Linked DNA regions of Homo sapiens. The protein of the gene in region 2 purifies or fractionates together with the protein of the main gene of each other region. This does not show direct contact. Each region holds a gene or a part of one and is shown on either strand. Other genes may lie near its edges.

The links.
Region 1: the proteins of RALGAPB (region 2) and DHX15 purify together in Homo sapiens (tandem affinity purification; one study listed by IntAct). This does not show direct contact.

The regions. Positions count from the first base shown.
Region 1 is NC_000004.12:24,578,055-24,581,554, reverse strand, and holds part of DHX15 (ATP-dependent RNA helicase DHX15), read left to right. Parts: intron 1-3,500.
Region 2 is NC_000020.11:38,545,843-38,549,342, reverse strand, and holds part of RALGAPB (ral GTPase-activating protein subunit beta), read right to left. Parts: intron 3,101-3,500; coding exon 2,913-3,100; intron 655-2,912; coding exon 548-654; intron 1-547. UniProt on the Homo sapiens protein: Non-catalytic subunit of the heterodimeric RalGAP1 and RalGAP2 complexes which act as GTPase activators for the Ras-like small GTPases RALA and RALB.

The DNA of each region.
Region 1 (3,500 bases), on a different chromosome or scaffold from region 2:
TACTCAAAGGTTTAAAGAAGGCATTCCCTAAAATCTTCATCTCCATCTTTGGATAACAGTTTTTGGTGAACATTTTCTAAGATCTCTGCATATTGACTCAAAAATATGAACTATAAAATTTAATATCAGTGGGATCAACGCGTGTTATTTTGTACTTTGATTTTTTTTTCCACTCAGAAATGTCATTAACTGTAGGTACACATTACGCTTTTAAATTGGCTGCCATAGGCCGGGCGCAATGGCTCACGCCTGTAATCCCAGCACTTTGGGAGGCCGAGGCGGGTGGATCACGAGGTCAGGAGATCAAGACCATCCTGGCTAACACGGTGAAACCCTGTCTCTACTAAAAATACAAAAAATTAGCCGGGTGTGGTGGCGGGCACCTGTAGTCCCAGCTACTCTGGGAGGCTGAGGAAGAATGGTATGAACCCGGGAGGCGGAGCTTGCAGTGAGCCGAGATTGTGCCACTGCACTCCAGCCTGGGCAACAGAGCGAGCCTCCATCTCAAAAAAAAAAAAATAATAAAAAATAAATAGATTGACTGCCATAGTACTCCAGTTGTAAAGGTATGACATCACTTATTTAACCAATATCCTGTTCATTGATATTTAGGTAGTTTTCCACTTGTTGCTATTTTATAAATGAGAAGTTTGATGAACATCCTTATACATACGTATTTGCACACATCCTTGAGAGGTTCCTGGAAATAAGATTGACGGATAAAAAGCAGTGCTTATTGCCGGGTGTGATGGCTCACACCTGTAATCACAGCACTTTGGGAGGCCTAGGCGAATGGATCACCTGAGGTCAGGAGTTCAAGACCAGCCTGGCCAAGGTAATAAAACCTATTTTTGTCTCTGTTAAAAATACAAAAATACACTGGGCATGGTGGCGCACTGCTGTAATCCCAGCTACTTACTCCGGAGGCTGAGGCAGGAGAATTGCTTGAACCTGGGAGGCAGAGGTTGCAGTGAGTCGAGATTGCACCACTACACTCCAGCCTGGGTAACAGAGGTAGACTGTCTTTAAAAAAAAAAAAAAAAAGCAATGCTTATTTAAAATATCATGATTTTGATGACCAGTTAATGTCTTCCTTAGCAGTACTTCAGTGCCTGTTATTATTCCATGTAGAATTTTTTTATTTTTTAGAGACAGGGTCTTCCTCTGTTTCCCAGGCTGGAGTGCACTGGTGTGATCATGGCTCACTGCAGTCTCAAATTCCAGGGCTCAAGTGATCTTCCCGTCTCAGCCTCCCAGGTAGCTGGGACTACAGGCGTGCCACCCCACCTAGCTAAGTTTAAAATTTTTTTGTAGAGATGGGGTCTCACTGTATTGCTCAGGCTGGTCTCAAACTTTTGGCCTCTGGTGATCCTCCCACTTGGGCCTCCCAAAGCACTGGGATTACATGCGTGAGTCACTAGGTCTTGCCCTCCATGTAGAATTTTAACATGGTATTAGAACTTAAAAAGATCTTTAATAATAACCAATATTGGTGGGGCGCGGTGGCTCATGCCAGTAATCCCAGCACTTTGGGAGGCCGAGGCAGTCAGATCATGAGGTCAAGAGATTGAAACCATCCTGGCCAACATGGTGAAACCTCGTCTCTACTAAAAATACAAAAATTAACTGGGTGTGGCAGCATGTGCCTGTAGTCCCAGCTACTCTGGAGGCTGAGGCAGGAGAATCGCTTGAAACAGGGAGGCAGAGGTTGCAGTGAGCTGAGATTGCACCACTGCACTCCAGCCTGGTGACAGAGCAAGACTCCGTCTCAAAATAATAGTAATAATAACAACAACAACCGATATTGGGCATTTGCAATGTGCCAGACAACACTTAAAGCACATCACATATATTAACTCATTTAATCCTATCTATACTCTACAAAACATATTGATAGCCACATCTTATAGGTGAGGGAAGAAATAACTGTGATCCTATAGTTGGCTTAAGTCTTGAGCCAAGATTGAACTGAGACACAGTACAGAGCAGTATGTTCAACAACTGTGTCATGTCATACCTCCCTCCCTGCTCGTGGTGTGGCTGTGTCTGAAGCACTGACTTGATACCAGTTTTTAAAAACCCTTATACTTCAACTAGTAAACTTTTAAGAACAAAACTCCTTTATAATAAAAAGTATCTTTTAAAAAAGAAAACACGCATGTGCACAATAGTTGACAAATATTTATGAAGTGGAGGGTTTGATTTTCCCCTTTTACTCACCTTTCATTTGTACTCCCTCTCTCATCGAAGGAAGGTAGTTTGAGCCATAAGCAACATTTCCAGGTGTCTGAATTTGCCTCCTGCATCCTCCCTGTTTTCTTACTTTAATCTGAGACTAAAAGTATCTGAAAATGCTCTTCATTTTGCAGATCAGTAAATTGAGGCAGTGTCTTGCAATGGTGATTCCAGCATTCCTTTTATCTTAATACCACAGCTGTCGCCATTGCTTGATCAGCAGCTAACCTTTTATCTTTAGAATGTATTTTATACATCCTTTGTTTGGTTTGGTAATGAAGCATCTGATGAAGTGGGCCCCTGAAAAAATCTTTGTTAGTATAGGTATTACTTTAACAAACTAAGGCAATATATAATACATGATTTACTTTGTCACCTCTCTTCCCCCAAATTTTGTAACTCTTGACCATGTCTTAATTGCCTGGTACTATGCTAGAAGTATAGAAATCATTAAACTAGGCTGGGCATGGTAGCTCATCGGTAATCCCAGCACGTTGGGAGGCTGAAGCAAGAGATTGCTTGATCCCAGGAGTTGAAAACCATCCTGGGCAACATGGTGAGACCCTTATCTCTACAAAAATAAGAAATTAGCGAGGCGTGGTGGTGCATGCCTGTAGTCCCAGTTACTCGGGAGGCTGAGGTGAGAGGACCACTTGAACCCAGAAGTTTGATATTGCAGTGAGCCATGATCCAGTGAGCCACTGCACTCCAACCCGGGTAATGGAGCAAGATCCTATCTCAAAAAAAAGGAAGTTGTTTCAATTATATTTTTTGTCATCTCCTCCTTCCCCCATGGTTGAGTGAATACTAGAAACATGAATCCTTTTTGTTCAGACCAGATGTTCTTTAAGAGTTCTTTTCTAGCTGTATGATCCATGATCTTTAAGGTGTCAAGTATTTGAACCATTTGTGAGTACAGTGCTTCTTACTTTGCTGGGCACATTTCTGTGTACTCTTATTATAAACTACACCTCGTTGGCATTTTGGAGCAATGTAAACACTTAATTAACAGTCACCTTAGGCCAGAAGCAGGAGAAGCAAAGATAGTTGATGGCATATTTCAGAAGATAGGTCCAGACTCTCAAGTATTGAATTGTGAGACTTCATTTTATGTTTATTAAGTTATCCTTTGACTTTTCTTTCCCATTGATTTTCTTTCTGTTTATGCCAGGTGAAATGAGAGGCTTCATACAGTTCTGGCTTGTATGCTCTGTGATTTTTGTAGAAGGTGAACATTGGGATGGAAGAGGGGAAAATCACTTTTC
Region 2 (3,500 bases):
GGCAAGAGGATCACTGGAGCCCAGGAGCTTGAGGCTGCAGTGAGCTATGATTACACCACTGCACTCCAGTCTGGGCAACAGAACAAGACCCTGACTCTTTATAAAAAAAATAAAATTTATACAATATATTACCAATTATTATATAAGAACAAATCATATAAAACAATTTCAAACTAAGTCCTGTTGCGGACAAATCAAAAGTCCCACCAAATTTTTTTCACGTATGGTATATATCTGACTTTTATTACATTTGTAAAATTACATGGAAAAAACTGGGGCCATTGTCCACAACAGCAATTACTCCTAAGTAGATGTCAGAATCACCTGGAAAGCTTTTTGAAAAGACACCTGCCTTGAACATGTCTTTAAAGAGTAATTGAGTACATCTGGAATTCTAGGTTCCTAGATGATTCTGATATGAACCCACTGACTGAGAATCTGGCTAGGGATCAAAAATATTTATTTGATCTGTGTCTTCTGTTGGAATGTTACCTAACCTTTAAATTACAAAACACACACACACTTCCCTGTAACTTCTGATGAATACCTTCTGATTTGCTTTTGCTCCTCTGGGTAAAAGACAAAGCTGTTGTGCCCAAGCAAGTCTTCCAGACATTCCCCGGACCAGCACAGTGACAGAGGGGAAAAAATCATCTAGAATAAAATATGTATATAAAAGTTTTAATTTCAGACAACAACCATTTAAAATAAACTTGTTATCAACTGCAGAGCTTCTCATAATCAAAGGCCCAACAGTGTTTCCTAAGCTTTGATCTTTTGTGTACCACTTCTGTGGTTTCTGCCGTACCCATACCCGTGTACTGTAAGTACTATTACTTTGTATCAACCACTCTTGTGCATCTCTAAATGGAAAATCATGAATTTTGGCATGTACTAATTATATAATTTTAAAGCACATGCTTAAAAATACATAAAATAATGTTCACTAATGTATCAACTAAGATCATCTCACATACCTCCAATGGTACATGTACACATTTGTGGGAAACACTGTCCTAGTAAATACTCTTAACCTCCCAATGTTGGGAACAACTTAAGTGTAGAAAGACAGACTGGGTGTTTGCAGTGTTAGTGTTATATCTGCCCATGCCTTTGTGTACCACTGCCCACCACAGGCAGGCACTGTTCCATCTCAGCAGAAGTTCAGGGACATGATGGGGGTGTTAAAAAAAACACTCAGGATGGACTTCCCGAGTGACCCAGATCCTTTTTTTTATTCTTCCGTCTCAGATATGGGAGTCAAACGCCTTCAAACTTCTCTATAATTTCTTATTATTACAATAAACTATTAAAATGTCCTTGTAAATCTATACAATTCCAATTGCTTGTATTTTTGGTACACTTCCTATGCAATGAAATTATTTGGAATGAAAGTAGGAGAGTCTTTAAAAAGCTGGAAAAAGGCCAGGAAGCCTGAAGGGGACACTGGGATTTTGCAGACTCCTCAGCAGATGGCTTGGAGTAGGAGGCTGGAGGAATCATGAACAGGCACAGGCTAGGAAAGAAAGCCAAGCAAGCTCCATGTCTAGGGTAGAGAAGGATGAGATGCCTGTAGAAAAGACTTGGGAGTAGCAGTTCTGAAGTTAGACAATAATAAAAGGCACCATTCCATTTCACATTAATGTCACCGCATCTCACCACAACACAACAGAAGTTTATGATGGTATTCTTTTCATCTCAAACTGCAGGGAAATGTCTCACTTTCACTTCATGGATTTATGAGCTCTTACTCATATAATCAACAAAACTGGCACAGAACTCTTCACCTTTACAAAGGCAAGAAGGCAAATCTTTAATCACTGAGCAAATCCTATCACTGTGCGACAATAATAATAGAAAGGGACAATACAGGGTTTAGAAAATCTGGGCTCTAGTCCCAAGTAACCCTGGGCAAGTCATATACCCTCTGTGAGCCTGAGTTTTTTCACTCATAACTAAGGGAATTGTATACCAGGTGACTCCATGGGTCACTTTATACCCACAGATTCTGTAACCTTCACTTTCCTTCCCCTTCCCAGCAATAAGGGTCTGAGAACATGCTTCTTTTACATACTGGCTGATGCCAATTACCATCAGAAAAAAAAAATGTACTTGTGGATAGTTTGGGTCGCAGTGATAATCACATATTGTGAGATGGCTTATAACTGAGGGGGAGGGAAAGGAGGAAAACAGTGCATGTTGTGTTAATGGAAAATCACTGAAGGATTTTCAGTAGGGCACTGGCATGGTCATTTGTGGTTGAAGATGAATACTATGGTGGCAGCAAGTAGGATGAAAGTAGGGAAAACACATGTTAGAACTGGCAAGGGGTTTAGGGGTTGAGGGAATCAGAGTAGGTAGGAAACAGCTGTAATAATCTAGGTGAGAAATAATAAGGACCTGCACTTGGATGTATTGGGAAAATACAGAGGAAAGGAAAAATTCAAGGGTCCCTGGGAAGATGGAAACTTAGAAACTAATTATATAAGTGAGTAACAGGAAGGGGCAGGTAAAGATAACTCCTCAAGTTTCTAGCCTGTGTAGGTAGCACCAACAATTGATACAGAACATGAGGAGTGAGAGGGAGGGGAGCAGAGGGGCAGGATCCGAAGTTCAAGGGGGAAGAAAAAGTGACAAAGATAAACAACACAATGGAACCCACTAAAACACCACCTTTTATAAAACTACAGAGCTAGTTCAGATGCACATCAAGAGCCTTTAAAAGACTCTATGTAATATGTATATTCTATTTTTTTGCCCCCCTATTTTTCAGGTGCTATTGTCCCACAGCTAGAAATCTTTCTGACCTACTTAGAATCTGTAGGCTGTCCTTCCCTGATCCTGGAAACAGCTTCATGGTACTGGTAACACTGATTAAGCAGTAGAGAAGGCTCAAAGTACTATAAACTTACTCTGCTCATTTCCAAGAGGTTGTTCCAGCATTGCCAGGATGACACTGTTATCCAAGACAAAGTACCGGAAACTATGCTTGTTTATGGTTGGCAGCCTGGAGTATTTAATCAAAGTGGTCTCATTCACAAGACTACAAGGAGAGGCAGGACCACTAGGTGAAGGAAATGCGCCGAGCAACTGCATAATGCTATGGAGAATGGAAAAGATAACAGTTAATTCCCAAAGCAAAATCTTCAGTTTACCTTGTGCATCAATGTGTCCCCTTCCACTCTTCTGAATTTTAATTGACCACAGCCATGCTTCTTGACAGGTCAGATTTACTCCTTGTGGTGAATGCCATGGCATGCTGTCCAGACTCTCCCCTCCAAGATTAAAAAGCCCATTACCCCAGATGCATACCTGTATGTCTTTATTTCAGAGACATTTAATCTGCCTTTCCAGTCTGGTCAATATCCGGAACAGAAAATGCAGTTAGGCTGGTATAATTTGATCTTAGTGACCTACTCCCTTACCAGCAACCTATCTGATATCTTAGAATCTTGCATGGAACACAGCAAGCTCATATTCCATATGCTTTGTGACAACCG